Regions from separate parts of the Homo sapiens genome. Here region 2 is linked to region 1. Evidence: fine-mapped expression QTL. Tissue or cell type: blood mononuclear cells. Region 1 holds a variant in brackets; the other region holds the start of a gene. All regions are shown on one strand. Distances are from middle to middle.

What was found. PIP is the estimated chance that this variant, and not a neighbour inherited with it, causes the effect.
Region 2: it holds the start of SCRN3, and the variant in region 1 is fine-mapped to the expression of SCRN3 in blood mononuclear cells (TOPMed, PIP above 0.99).

Annotation. Positions count from the first base shown.
Region 1 is chr2:174,441,747-174,449,854 of GRCh38, forward strand. GPR155 (G protein-coupled receptor 155) reads right to left here. Exons shown (of 16, transcript NM_152529.7): 12 at 4,865-5,001; 13 at 3,335-3,430; 14 at 373-437. Among named protein-coding and RNA genes, the nearest start is that of GPR155, 41 kb to the right of the region's middle. The variant C/G (reference allele first, on the strand shown) is at 3,555.
Region 2 is chr2:174,392,130-174,400,237 of GRCh38, forward strand. SCRN3 (secernin 3) reads left to right here and starts at 3,601. Exons shown (of 8, transcript NM_024583.5): 1 at 3,601-3,688; 2 at 6,146-6,313; 3 at 7,793-7,974. The coding sequence starts at 6,155. CIRSR (corepressor of RBPJ and splicing regulator) reads right to left here and starts at 3,583. Exons shown (of 10, transcript NM_004882.4): 1 at 3,422-3,583. The coding sequence starts at 3,493. RefSeq lists a silencer at 1-95 and enhancers at 3,482-3,531, 4,029-4,529.

The sequences.
Region 1 (8,108 bases):
GTGTGCGTGTGTGTGTGACAGGATCTTGCTCTGTCGCCCAGGCTGGAGTGCAGTGGCACAATCTTGGCTCACTGCAACCTCTGCCTCCCAGGTTCAAGCCATCCTCCTGCCTCAACCTCCTGAGTAGCTGGGACTACAAAAGCATGCCACCACACCTGGCTAATTTTTGTATTTTTTTTTTTGTAGAGACTAGGTTTCACTATGTTGCCCAGGCTGGTCTTGAACTCCTGAGTTCAAGCAATCTGCCCACCCTGGCCTCCCAAAGTACTGGGATTACAAGTAGCCACCATGCATGGCCCCATATCAGTATCTTAATATAATGGCTTTGTCATCACATTTACAGATACAGATTTATTTCAAAACTTAATTTACCTTCTTTTGAAAGGCAGGATGATTAAATGTTTATCTAATCCAAAGATTCCAAAGGAAATAAATCCCTAGGGAAGAAAACAAAGTTATTTTTTTCAGAATTCAACAATAACATTTTAAAACAGAGAAGTTAAGGAAGTCACCAAATTTAGTGTTTGAGGAGACAAACCTATAGTGACAAGAGCAACATTTTAAGTGGAACACACAAAGTAGGCCCTTCAAAGGCAGGTATGATGCTTTGCTGCCTTTTCCCAATCATTCTATCCCACTCATTGTGATGGGTGATACAAACCAGGGCTGAGCAGCCGCATTTACATGATAGTAAAATGAAAACGTTTAAGGGCATATATGTCTTTGTTTCCCCTTTATAAAAAGAAAATATTTCCCACTGTGCGTAAGTATTTATTATTTTTCCATGAAACCTCACAAATTATATAATTAACAAGTGTTGCAGTATCTAATAATAATGCAGTAATTGAACAGAATTTATGTAAAGTGAAACTGGCTAGTGGTTAGGAGAAGAGTTCAAGGATTTGTGAGTGTCAAGGCAAATGCCTAGCACCAGGTATCAGCCACAGGTTAGGACAATTTAAAGACTCTTTTTGAGAGATAGGAAGTTGGGAGCTGCCATCTGTGTCACACTGGGATAAGGATCTGAGTGCAACTTGATAGAAGTAGAATGGAGAATGCAGAAGGACCCAAATTTCTTCATCCCCCATACTATAAACAGCCAGAAGGGAATGAGCTTACCATACCACCTCCCCAAGAGGAAAATGGGATGGGAATGGGGTTTCTGTCTGTCTTGCTCCATTGAACCACTTCGGCCTTAAGTTGTGGGGCAGCATTTTAAATGCAACATTCCTGGCATTAGCTGCTGTTGATGACACAGCCCTATGGAATGAAGCTCATCCCAGTCCCAGTTCTGGATAGCTCAGCTTAGAATGGGCTTTCTGAATGCAAAATGCTAAGTCAGACTATGATTTTTCAACTCAGTATTTTATAGTTCTTAGATACAAAATCAGATCTTAAACAGTATCACAAAGTGAGATATCAAGTAGGATGCTCATGTCTGTCTGTAATAAACTGATTAAGGTCATTTGTCTCTGTGGGCATAGCCATTTTTGCTCCCATCATAATGGCCAAACTGTAAATATTGTAAGAAATTAATATTAGGAAAAACAGCAACATCTATTGACAAATGTTAACTCATTCATATGGCAAATTATTTTAGATTTAATAGACAAACTCAGTGATTTCAAATGTGTGGGGTTTTTTGTTTTTTGACCTGATACTCAGTCTGTGGACTAATATTCTGTAATGCAAAAGTAAGGGCTGGGTGCGGTGGCCCATGCCCGTTAATACCAGCACTTTGGGAGGCCAAGGCAGGTGGATCACTTGAGGTCAGGAGTTCAAGACCAGCCTGGCCAACATGGTGAAACCTCATCTCTACTGAAAATACAAAAATTAGCTGGGCATGGTAGCAGGTGCCTGTAGTCCTAGCTACTCAGGAGGCTGAGGTAGGAGAACCACCTGAACCCAGGAGGTGGAGGTTGCAGTGAGCTAATGCCAATGCACTCCAGCCTGGATGACAGAATGAGACTCCATCTCAATTAAAAAAAAAAAGTAAGGAGTTAAAGGTCAAAATTTGGAATTTGCACATAAAAAATATTTTCCCAATATGTAAGATGTAATTTATCCTTAAGTATCCATTTTAATAGTGACATAAACATAGACAATAGCACCTATCATATTACTTGTTTATGGAATTTTAGTTTCCTAATTCATAAACTGGGGGTGATAATACTACTTTGCAGGTGTTGTCATGATGTTTAAATGAGATAATGAATGTAAAATGCTTAACGATGGTTGGCACATAGTAGACTATCAAGGAATGGTAACTGCTATCCCTAGCCAAAATTTATTTATATACCACATGATTTTTCTTTTTAAGATTTAAGTATCTATTGTTCAAGAAACATCAAAATGTAAATGAAATGATGTCCACTAATTTAAGGAGATGGCCGGGTGTGGTGGCTCATGCCTGTAATCCCAGCACTTTGGGAGGCTGAGGTGGGTGGATCTCCTGAGGTTGGGAGTTGGAGACTAGCCTGAGCAACTGGAGAAACCCCGTCTCTACTAAAAATACAAAATTAGCCGGGCGTAGTGGTGCATGCCTGTAATCCCAGCTACTCAGGAGGCTGAGACAGGAGAATTGCTTGAACCTGAGAGGCAGAGGTTGCAGTGAGCTGAGATCACGCCATTGCACTCCAGCCTGGGCAACAAGAGCGAAACTCCGTCTCAAAAAAAAAAAAAAAATTTAAGGAGCTAAATTAAAAGTTCAGGGAAATTAAGTTATTTTCCCAAAGTGACCTTTTTTTTTTTTTTTTTTTTTGAGACAGTCTCATCTCACTCTGTCACCCAGGCTGGAGTGCAGTAGCACAGTCTCAGCTCGCTGCAACCTCCACTTCCTGGGTTCAAGTGATTCTTGTGCCTCAGCCTCTGCAGTAGCTTGGATTATCGGCATGGACTACCACGTCTGGCTAATTTTTTTGTATTTTTTTGTAGAGATGGGGTTTCACCATGTTGGCTAGGCTGGTTTTGAACTCCTGGCCTCAAGTGACCTGCCCACCTTGGCCTCCCAAAGTGCTGGGGTTACAGGTGTGAGCCAATGAGCCCGGTCCCAATGTGACTTATTAAGATCACACCAAAGTTACTACCTGGCATTTTTCTGGTGGAAGCACTCAGCGTACATTCTGATGACTTTAACCAATATAATAATTCGTCTCTACTAGAAGACAAGCAGCAGCTGTCAGCTGCCATGCATACCAGCAGCTGGCAAACAAACTAAATCCTTTTTATGTGAAAGAAAACAACATCCTAATCCACTCCCCGCTTCCCCCGACCCCCTACCAATCAACCTATCCAGGAAGACAAAAACCCCTCAAAGTTCTCCATAAATAAATACCTGACCAAAGTTAAACACGGCACAGAAAAACTGTAACTCAACATAAAGTCTTCCAGGCTCTTGGTTGAATAGCCACCATAAACAACTGGAAAGATTCTGTAAAGAAAGGAGAAAAGAGTATTTTAAAATCAAGCAAGCTGATAATTCCTCTCCATCCACAGCATAGTACAATAACTTACCTACTTAATAATTACAGGGAAAAAGACTAGACGGAAAAACA[C/G]TGAGAGAATATAGAGGCTTTATCTTTTCAATAAGAAAGTTTCAACCTCTCCTCCTGACAGATGTCATTCAAACAGTTATCTATTCTGATCAGATTTGAAGCAAGAAGACATGAGCCATAATACAGAAGCTTACATAATGTATCAAGATTGCCAACTAGCCTAAGACAGGCCTGATTTTAAATTTAGTTCTACACAATGAAAACAATTACATCACTAAGCAATTCTTGGCAGCATTTCTTATTTTTTGATTTTTGTTCTTAAATGGCACTTAAAGTGGTATTGGCTGATATCACACTATCTCACGAGCATCCCAGTGTGCAAAGCGTTCCTTCATAGGTTATCTGGTCCATCTCCTACCTCTGGACGAGTTACACTTGAACCATCTCAAAGAATTATATAATAAGAACTGATAATTCACAAATAGGACATTTAGTAATCAAAGAAATGCATGTAGTCTAAAAATAAAATACTGTATTTTAATTTTCTCTATTTTGTAAGGGTCTATTATATGAAGTAGTTATGTTATTTTGATAATTGAAAATTATTTTTTAAAGTTTATCTGAGGAATATGTTCTGAGAGGTTTTTTGGTTTTCTTTTTTTTTTTCTGGTGGACACTGAGGTTTCATGTTCTGAGACATTAATGTAGGCATTTATCCACTTTGGTCAGTCAGGTATGTTAGGAATAAGTGGCCCTGTGTACATTATTGAAATAGCTGCTTTTGGGCCTGGCGCAGTGGCTCACGCCTGTAATTCCAGCACTTTGGGAGGCTAAGGAGGGTGGATCACCTGAGGTCAGGGGTTCAAGACCAGCCTGACCAACATGATGAAACCCCGTCTCTACTACAAATACAAAAATTAGCCAGGCATGGTGGCATGCGCCTGTAATCCCAACTACTCAGGAGACTGAAGCAGGAGAATCGCTTGAACCCGGGAGGCAGAGGTTGCAGTGAGCTGAGATCATGCCACTTCACTCCAGCCTGGGCAACAGAGTTAGACTCTGTCTCAAAAAAAAAAAAAATAAAAAATAAAAAGAAATAGCTGCTTTTACCAAATTCTAGGTTCAGAGCATAGAATGAATAAATGATTCTAAGCAGAATAAGCTATTGGAGCACTCAGGCCTCAGAGTAATGTGAATGATTCATCTCTTCCCCTCACACCTGCAATTATTTAGCTCAAGATCCAAATTCAGGTGACCTAGCTACCACACTTCTGGAAAGCAGCAACTAAGTTTTTCCCGGATGCCTGAATAAAACCTTTGCCAAAAATTTAAAGAAATGGCCCCAAAACAAAACCAGAAAAAACCATTACAGCGAACAGGCCAATGATGAGAAGTAAACACAGCAACACATGTCGGGTCAGTTGCTGGTCTCCACTCTGTAGATACTGTTCTTCTTCCTGGGCTAATATGCAGCTCTGGGAGTTACAGCGACTCACACAATGATTGTCTATAAAAGAGTAAGCACAACAATTTGTAATCAGAGCTTTTTATCTAAATGCATTTTAAATTTGTAATGACTTCCTAAGAGAAACAACAGAAAAGCACATTCAGCTAAGAATCAGTATATTATTTTAGATGAAATTGGAAGAAAGCTCCTTCATGTTGCTTTAGAAGAATTCTAGCTGAAATGTTTTTATCTCAAAAAACATAAGTAGAATACAATAGTTCCCTTTTACACTATTCAACAATGTTTTATATATATAATTATCTAACATAAGTTATATAATTTGGTCTTTAAAAATTATACATAATTTGCCTGGGTGCGGTGGCTCATGCCTGTAATCCCAGCACTTTGGGATGCCGAGGCAGGCAGATTACTTGAGATTAGGAGTTCAAGACCAGCCTGGCCAACACGGTGAAACCTCATCCCTACTAAAAATACACAAATTAACTGGGTGTGGTGGCGGGCACCCGTAATTCCAGCTACTTGGAAGGCTGAGGCAGGAGAATCGCTTGAACCCAGGAGGCAGAGGTTGTGGTGAGCCAAGACTGCACCACAGAGTAAGACTCTGTCTCAAAAAAAATTAAAAAAAATAATAAAAAATTATATATAATTTTTATATAATTAATATAATTAAGTATAAATTATATATAATTTTTATTTTATATATTAGTTATATAAATAATATATACACATTACATATATAATTATATAACAATTATATATTATGTTATAAATGTATATTATATATCAGTATATATTATAATCATATAAATTTATATATAATTATATATGTAATTTGTGCATATTATATAAATTACAAATTAATATATAAGCATATATAAATAAAAATTTTATATTTAATTATATTTATAATTTACATATATAAATTATATATTAAATATATAATATATATTAGATATTATATATATCCTAAGTGAATTAACACAGGAACAGAAAACCAAGTACTGCATGTGCTTACTTATAAGTGGGAGCTAAATATCAGATACTCATGGACATAAAGATGGCAACAATAGGAACTGGGGACTACTAGAGGTGAGGAGGGAGGAAGGGGGACAAAGGTTGAAAAAGTATATAATATATATTTTTATTTTTATATTGTATATATTAAAATTATATACATATAATTTTAAAGGCCGAATTAATAACTCAAGTTTTATCACTGATAAATCTACATATTAGTCATGAATACCCTATTTTGGCTAACTGTGAAACAAATTATTATTATCTCTTAACCTCTCATTAAAGAGTTTACAATTTGCCTTAACCCCTGCCTTTCACCATATACAAAAATTAACTCAAGATGGACTAAGATTTAAATGTAATGTCTCAGCCAGGCACGGTGGCTCACGCCTGTAATCCTAGCAATTTGGGAGGCTGAGATGGGCGGATCACTTGAGGTCAGGAGTTCAAGACCAGCCTGGCCAACATGGTGAAACCCTGTCTCTACTAAAAATACAAAAATTAGCCAGGCATGGTGGCGGCCGCCTGTAATCCCAGCTATTTGGGAGGCTGAGGCAAGGGAATTGCTTGAACCTGGGAGCAGAGGTTACAGTGAGCCAACATCGTGCCATGGCACTCCAGCATGGGCAACAGAGCAAGACTGTGTCTCAAAAAAAAGTAATGCCTCAAACTATAAGAATCCTAGAAGAAAACCTAGGAAACACCATTCTGGACATCGACCTTTGGGAAGAATTTATGACTCAGTCCTCAAAAGCAATTGTAACAAAAACACTATACTGGGAAGTTTTTTGTTTTTTGTTTTTTGTTTTTTTTTTTTTTTTTTGAGACGGAGTCTCGCTCTGTCGCCCAGGCCGGACTGCGGACTGCAGTGGCGCAATCTCGGCTCACTGCAAGCTCCGCTTCCCGGGTTCACGCCATTCTCCTGCCTCAGCCTCCCGAGTAGCTGGGACTACAGGCACCCGCCACTGCGCCCGGCTAATTTTTTGTATTTTTAGTAGAGACGGGGTTTCACCTTGTTAGCCAGGATGGTCTCGATCTCCTGACCTCATGATCCACCCGCCTCGGCCTCCCAAAGTGCTGGGATTACAGGCGTGAGCCACCGCGCCCGGCCTACTGGGAAGTTTTAAGGTAAAAACAAAAACAAAACCAAAAATTGACAAGTGGGACCTAATTAAACTAAAGAGCTTCTGCATAGCAGAAGAAACTATGAACAGAGTAGACAGACAACCTACAGAATGGGAGAAAATATTCGCACACTATGCATCTAACAAGGCCTAATATCCAGAATCTATAAGGAACTTAAACAATTGAACAAACAAAACACAAATAACTCCATTAAAAAATGCACAAAAGACATGAACAGACACTTCTCAAAGAAGACATACAAGCGGCCAACAAACATGAAAAAATGCTGCACATCACTAATCATCAGAGAAATCAAAACCACAATGAGATACCGTCTTGCATCAGTCAGAAGGGCTATTATTAAAAAATCAATAAACAACAGATGCTGGTGAGGCTGTAGAGAAAAGGGAATGCTTTATACCATTGGTGGGAATGTAAATTAGTTCAGTCACTGTGGAAAGCAGCCTGGAGATTTCTCAAAGAACTTAGAACAGGACTACCATATGACCCAGCAATCCCATTACTGGGTACATATCCAAAAGAAAAAAAATGGTTCTACCAAAAGACTCATGCACTTGCATGTTCATCACAGCACTACTCACAACAGCAAAGCATGGAATCAAACTAGGTGCCCATCGATGGTGGACTGGATAAAGAAAATGTGCTACATATATACCATGGAATACTATGTAGCCATAAAAAGAATGAAATAGGCCAGGCACAGTGGCTCATGCCTGTAGTCCCAGAACTTTGGGAGGACAAGGCGGGCAGATCGCTTGAGCTCAGGAGTTCGAGACCAGCCTGGGCAACATGGCGAAACCCTGTCTCTAAAAAACTAAACAAGTCCGGATGCGGTGGCTCACGCCTGTAATCCTAGCACTTTGGGAGGCTGAGGTGGGCAGATCACCTGAGGTCAGGAGTTTGACACCAGCCTGACCAATATGGTGAAATCCCGTCTCTACTAAAAATATAAAAATTAGCCGGGCATGGTGGCAGGTGCCTGT
Region 2 (8,108 bases), 50 kb before region 1:
TGGGATTACAAGCGCCCGCCACCACACCCAGCTAATTTTTGTACTTTTAGTAGAGACAGGGTTTCACCATGTTGGCCAGGCTGTCTTGAATTCCTGACCTCGGGTGATCCACCCACCTCAGCCACCCAAAGTGCAGAGATTACAGGTGTGAGCCACCATGCCCAGCGGGGGTTTCTTTTTGGGGTGATGACAAAGTTCTAAAATTGTTTGTGGTAATGATTACTTAACTCCATGAATACATTTTAAAAACCACTAAATTGTACATTTTACATGGGTGTTTGTATGATATGTAAATTTATCTCAGCAGAGCTGTTAAAATGAAAAATGACTATTCTGATGGCTGTGTAGTGAATGGATTTGAGAGGACTCAAGATTGGAGGCAGTAGAACCACTTAGGAAATGCAACAATATAGGTGAAAGATGATGAGGGTCTGAATTAAGACACAAGCAGCAGTGACAGAAAGGAAAGATGGATTCAAGAGATATTTGGAAGGTAAGACCAATAGCATTCAGTGATTGACTAGATAAAGGAGTGATGGGAAAAGGGATGAATCCTGAGCTTCTGGTTTGGGCAACAGGATGAGGGACTGTTTTACTATCTATATTTCTACCCATATGAGATAGCAAGTATAAAAAGGGCTGATTTGGGGTAAAAAACTTTTATATCAGATATGTTGAGTTTGAGGTGCCTATAGGACATCAAGATGCAAATGTCTAGTAGATAGCTGTCTTGAGCCACATCAAAGTTAAGAAGAGAAAACTGGGACTGCAGATTTGAGTCATGAGTAAACAGGCTAGTTAAAACAGGCTAGTTGGATGTGATTGCTTGGGGCAAGCATACTAAGTAAGCAAGAAGTGGGCCAAGGATGAAACTCTGGGGAACACTTATATTTTAGGAGCAGGCTAAGAATAAAGATCCAGTGAAGTTGATGGGAAAAGAACAGTCTAATAAGAGAGCTGGAAAACTAGAAGAGAGTAGTTATTACAGCTAAGGGAACAGAGAGTTTCACAAAAAAGGGAGTTTACAGTGATGCAATTGTCAATAGCCAGTTTATGAACTGTTTGCCAGTCCACAAGAAGACTAAAGAGCTTGGACCACAATGTAAATTAACTGCTTCCTTCATTAACAAAATCAAGAAAAAAAAAGAACAGCTGAACAAAACAGTGTATCCTGTGACATAAATGATTGAGGCAGCGCATAACAATACACAACAGAGTGACCAGCAGATATACAGCATTCACTCTTATTTTTGGTGAACAAATGAGACCTTAAAACCTACTGGACTTTTTATAAGCTTGGGAAACTGAAAACAAACAAGGAAAAAAAGAACCTACTGGACTTTAATAAACCCAACATGCCTAATTTTACAATTAGAATTTTCTTTCTTTCTTTTTAAATATAGATGGGGTCTCACTTTGTTGCCTATGCTGGTCTTGAATTCCTGGCCTCTCAAAGTGCTGGAATTATAGGTATGAGCCACCATACCTGGCCCTTAAAATTTTCATGGTGGAACTCTTTTGCACTCTTTGATCAAACTCCTTTGTTTCTTCCACTTCTATTAAAAAAAAAAAAAAACTTTACTGGAGTATGACATATAAAAAGCTGTACATATTTAATGTATACAACCTGAGTTTGGTGACAAGTATATCCCTGTGAAACCATCATCACAATCTACACTATAAACATATCCATCACCTCCAAAAGTTTCCTCCTACCCTAATAAATTTTTCTATTTATCTTCATTTAATATAGTTCCTTTATCCTTAGTTAATAAAGAATGCTAGAGGTCACCCCCTCTCCCCATAAAGTGTTAACTATCTAGAAAGGTCTGCTAATCAAAAACATTTCATTCTTCTCCTCTATCCTGGGAAAAGTATAAAACAGATCAAAGAGGCCAACAATATTTGGTACATTTTACATAACACTTTACACAGATGAGAAGAATGTAGGTTCTAAGCCTATAACTGCTTTACTGAATTTCTCATAGCGGACTTGCAAAAGTTATTCTCTGTGGATTTCTTTTTTCTTGTAAGAAAGCTGATACATTGAAATTTATAAAGCGAAATGTCAAAAGTTCCAGTAAAAAATTATGATTTCTCAGGTATATTTGTCTCTAAATATAAACAGCAAATAAGCAAGCACCTGAATTCCATCTAATCTCTTCATTCTTGTAAAAATAGTAACAGCTGACCCCCTAAGTATGCAGAGAAAGGAAATGTCTGTGTTTGGTGTCAAAAGTTATTGAGCCAACCAAATACAAGAAACCTCTCCCTCCCACAGTTGCAACCACACAAACACAAACTGGTGCAGTGGAAAAAAAATCACTGGGTTAATCAGGTGTTCCAGATCCTAGTTCTGGTACAACATTTAACTAGCTGTGTAACTCTTGGCAAATTTGTTTCCTCATTTATAAAATGAGGAGATGGGGCTGGATGATTACCAAAGAGCTTTCAAGGTGTATCTGTGTTATTAAAATTTCATGGGGGAGTTATTAAGAAAAAATGTTTAATAAGACTCCTTAGGAAGGTAACAGTGAAAAAAAAGTTGAGAATCACTGGTCTAGAAGTGAGAGTATATAGCAGTATCTCATCACCTCAACTCGTTCTAAAAACAAATAAAAGCTTAGTTATTTTCACAAGTTTCTATGTAGGGGCAATCAACATTTTATTGAGCACCTCCTCTCTGTAGTGGACACAGTGATAGATGCCTACGTTGTTTCAAATCCTTTATCTTCACTATTTCACTTAATCCTCACAATTAAGTCAATCATCCTTAATTTACAGATTAGAAGACTGAGGGTCAGATATTACAAATATTTTGTGCAAGGTCTTAAGGCTAAAAGTGACTGCTCGAATAACTAGAATCCAGGTTTGACTCCAAAGCTGATTCTTTCTACTTCACTCTTTTGCTTTTCATTACTATGATATTCACCAAAGTATTACAACTGGTAGACCTGTAATTATGTAAAACACTAAACTTCAACGAGTTTAGTCATCAAAAAGACACTAGATTATTAGGTAATTTTTTTAAAGATCTATCTTAAGTAAACGGGGAGGCTTCTTTGTACAGAAAAGTAGAGTTCAGAAGCCGTGATCCCTGGGATCCGAAAAGACAAAAAACCAGAATCAGCTGAAGGAAGTACTGAGGAATTTTGACATTAGTCTTCGCATATTATGGATTTGCATTCTGGCCGACAAAGATTCTCTAGGCCACCGGTCTCCTCGCTGTTGCAGAATAAACGCTGAGGACCCGCTGCGTCAGCGAGCTGCTCAGCAGAGAAAGGCGAGACCACCAGGGCTTTAGGCCTAGAGAAGCGGAGGCTGTCCTAGGGATCTCAGAGACACCATCACTTTCACTTCCAGCAGCCTCTGGGAAGGCGGTCCCTGTGGGCCTAATCCCTCCCCGGGTCTGTTTACTCACTTTTTTGATATTGGATTTGGAGGCAGGATGAAAGTCTTTCTTGCACATGAAGTTGGCGAAGGATTTCCCCATCTTGGAACTGGAACTAGGGAAAGCAGGGGCTAGATCTGTTAGCAACGTAAACAAACTCAGCCGCCTAACCGGAACTGCGTTTCCAGCAGCAAGGGGGAACTTCCGAGATCAAAGGTGACAGCTTCCGGCAACTGATGCCTCCACTGGCCACTCCTCCCTCCGTCCACCTGTCACTTCGGGTAGCTGGGAGGCCAGGTGAGGGGCGCGCACGGGGGAGGGGCGTGCATAGTTGAGACAGAAACCCGGAAGACCCAACTGTGGCGCGGCACTGCTTGACCGAGGGGCTCCGGAGCCCAGCTGCACCGGCTGCGGTTTGAGCGCCCAGGGCCGGGGTGCGGGGTGGACCGCGGCGGCCCTTCGACCAAAGGTGCTTGAAGCTCGAGCCCATTACTTTCTGTGGACTCTGACTCGAGCTGCAAAAGCTTTTCTGCACTGTTTTTCTCATCTATGTTATGAAGATAATAATTCCGGCCCTAACCGTAGTATGCTTGCGAGAATCCAACAATATGATGTTTCTGAAAGCGCCGGCTGAACTAAGAGCGCGTGAAATAGAATGACAGACAGCTCTGCAAGAACGGAGGCCCTGTCTATTTTGTACCCAGCTGTACGGTACTGGCGCCGAAAGACGTTCAATAAATACTTATTGAATGACGAATACGCGTTAGGAGTTGGTAAAATCTCTCAAGGCTTCACCTCCTCAGTGGGCTAGGTGCAATTCTAACCAGGGGGCAAGTTTCCTTAGCTTTCCCTACGACCCCAGTTAGGCAGCTCAGGTTACTATTGCAGCTTGATGGCCCTTGGGACTCCAGGTTTTTGAGTGGACGTGGCTGCTACTGCAGCAGGTGATCCACCAACCAAGTTCTCTATCAGGGTAATGTTAAGAATAAACCTTGGCCGGGCGCGGTAGCTCACGCCTGTAATCCCAGCACTTTGGGAGGCCAAGGTGGGTGGATCACCTGAGGTCAGGAGTTCAAGACCAGCCTGGCCAACATGGTGAAACCCCGTCTCTACTAAAAACACGAAAAATTAGCCGGGTGTGGTGGCACGCGCCTGTAATCCCAGCTACTCGGGAGGTTGAGGCAGGAGAATCACTTGAACGCGGGAGGCGGAGGTTGCAGTGAGCCAAGACTGCTCCATTGCACTCCAGCCCGGGCAACAAGAGTTAAACTCCATCAAAAAAAAAAAACAAAAAACGAATAAGCCTTTATGAGAAATTTTCTCTCCTACCAAATAATAACAATAACAGCTTTCATGTGAGTATCTACTATGTTCTATGCACTGTGCAAAACACTTTACGTGTTGCCTTATTAAGTTCTCATAACAGCCCATCAAATAGTGTCTTATTTTTCTGATGAGGCAGAAGGCATAGGTAAGAGAGAGATTAAATAGTCTGCCAAAGTTATATAGTGATAGAACTAACTATAAAACACAAATAGAAGGAGATCCAGGACATAAGAGTTGAAATACAGAAAGAAAATAACAGAAGCCATCAAGACATCAGACTTCTCGTCACTGAGGAGAAGAGGAAAACCCTTAAGAGTTTCAGTCTGAAGTTTTTATTTAGTCATTTTCTTTTCTTTTTAAGGAAACATTTATTATATTTAAATTTTGTTTTTAAGTTGCTAGCATCTGCCTGTGTAAAGCCATTTTAAGGTTTTGCCATTATTAAAGGAAAGAAGGAAACTCTGTAAAACAATGTGTCTGTTCTGGCAGCAAAATAAGGACCTTTAGGTGTTCTATTATAAGTGAAGATCTAAGATTTTCCAAGTTACAACTGAAGAGGTAATCTAGATATTAAAGTATATAATTGCGATTTATAAATTAAATATGTGAACTTTCTCCTAGAAATATCAGCAATTTGGAATTATATTGACATATTTTTGTCTGAATCAATGAGTCTGTTTCAAAATTTCAGTCTCATCAGAATTATAATGTGTATTATTTCCCAGCTCAAATAAGACCCCTTCTTCCTTCCTTTGAGGAAGTACTGGGCACGTAAGATTTTTTTCCATAAGACAAGTTCCAGCAAAGAGAATATAAAGATTAGTAAGACATACTCCCAGCCCTCAAGGATCTCATTGTCCAGTAAAGGGATTTATATATACACGAATGTAATGGAATCTAGCCTTTACAACAATAGAGCTAGGTACACGGATTCCCAAATATGGAAATGGTGAAACGAAATTCAGGGAAGACTTTAGGAGAGAAAGGTCTTAGAGAATAAATGTGAACTATACAGTAGAAGAAGGTAGTTCTCATTGCCATTTTCTTACTGAGTTGTAGTACCAGATTGAGTCCCAAGTCATATTCTTACTGATTTTTAGGCTGTAGTATACAAAATTTAAAACTTTAATGAACAGCCAAGCACGGTCACTCATGCCTGTAATCCCAGGGCTTTGGGAGGCAGAAGGGGGAGGATCTCCTGAGCCCAGGAGTTCCAGGCTGCAGTAAGCCCTGATCATACAACTGCACTCCAGCCTGGGTGAAAGAGCTAGACCTTGTCTCCAAAAAATAAAAATAAAAAAATCAAAGCTTTAATGAACATCCTTAATTAGATATGGCAATAATATCCTTTGGTCATTGAGTAAAACTCTTTATTTTTATATACTTAAAAGTGTTCTTTTTATTTTAAAACATCTGTATAATTTTTAGTTAAAAAAAATGGAACCTTTTTCCTGTGACACTTTCGTGGCATTACCTCCAGCAACAGTCGATAACAGGATTATTTTTGGAAAAAATTCAGATAGACTCTATGATGAAGTACAAGAGGTGGTTTATTTTCCTGCTGTAGTTCATGATAACCTGGGAGAACGTCTTAAGGTAGGTGAAATAAATGTTTTGTTAGCAATATGCCTTTTAAAAATATCATAAAGTTATTTCTATACATAGCAATTTGGAAGAAACTGTAGAAGTTAAAATTGAGGAGTTTACATTTGAAAAATAAATGAGTCAGAAATAAACTGTGATCTTTTATTTCAGTGATTCGGAGGACGTTGAAATAACAATAATAAAATTATCCATTGTTTGAATAAATATTTGAATGCTTTCCATATGCAAGCATGTTAGATAGGGCAAGAGATTTAAAGTCAGCTGTCAAGACTCTGTTCCAGGAGCTTAGAGTCTAGTATAGCAATAAGATGTGTATGCATTATACCCCATTATAAAATAGGATGGTTTAAATGCTAAATTTAAGTAACAGTAGCATGCTGTGGCAGCGGAAGAGAATGAACATTTAATTCAGCTTGGAGTTAGCTGGAATTTGATGGACAAAAAGGATTCTGATTCTGAATTGGCTTAGGTTCTACTTGATGTAGAATAGGAAAGTCATCCCAGACTTTAGGAATGACAGTTTTATGACACATCAAAAAAGGTTTATTAGGCCCTATGTTAACACTATCAATATACATTTTATGCAGTCACTTGGTAGTATACACATTAATTAAAGGATCCTTTAAAAACTTATTTTAAAAACCCATTTAATGTGGAACTTAAAATGAGAGCTTCAAATTATGCTATTGTTGCTAATTCATACTTTTTAGATTTTATTTTATTGATATTCTAATATTAAAACATATTAAATATTAGACTTTTTTCTGTATCCTATGCCATATTTTTTTCTTTTGCTAAGACCACTTATTCATCTGTGATACCACTTCCACTTTATTTCTTCATATTTAAATATAGCCTGTCCTGTAAACCAGTGGTTCTCATTCTTTTCATTGCTGTGGGCATACCTAATGGTTGACTTCAAAATGTGATGTGAGATTCCTATGACAAAACTCTTGTATTCGAAGGCTACCATGTGAGTAATTATATCACTAATCAAGAAACACTGGATATTGAGGTTGAGAACTACTTCCTTAAGCTTCAACTCACACATCTACAAAAATGTTTCAAGATATTACAGCTAGAGACCATCTTTCTCCTGAGCTCCAATAGCACCTTGTCTTCACTTCATGACCCTAATACTTTATACTTTATTTTATCTTAATGTAGAAGTTTTAGTTTCTCAAAAGTGAGATCTTTATCTGATTCATCTTTGTAACTAACATATCTCTTGGCAGAATGTTTTATAATAGGAAATGCTCAGCAAATATTTGAATGAATAAATATTTTAGGGTTATTCTGAATATGTTTTAAGGGTAATGCCTTTATTATTGAAAATTTCAATTTACTTATATTTCCTTTACCTCTTTCATAACAGTTTTGTCTTCTGACTGATTTTTTTAAATTCTGGATTTTGATAACTTTTCTGGTTTTGTGGTTCTTGCTATGACTTTTTTTTTTTTTTTTTTACAGTGTACATATATAGAAATTGATCAAGTTCCTGAAACATATGCTGTTGTCCTGAGTCGCCCAGCGTGGTTGTGGGGGGCAGAAATGGGAGCCAATGAGCATGGAGTTTGCATTGGGAATGAAGCTGTATGGGGAAGAGAAGAAGTTTGTGATGAAGAAGCACTATTAGGAATGGACCTTGTCAGGTTATTTTTTGTTACATTTTATACTACAGACCTTGTCTAAATTTATAATTTTTGTGTAACTCTTACTTGTTTTATTTTCCTATTTTTGAGGGGGCTTTGATACTTTGCAGTTTGTGTCAAAATGGTTTAAAGTA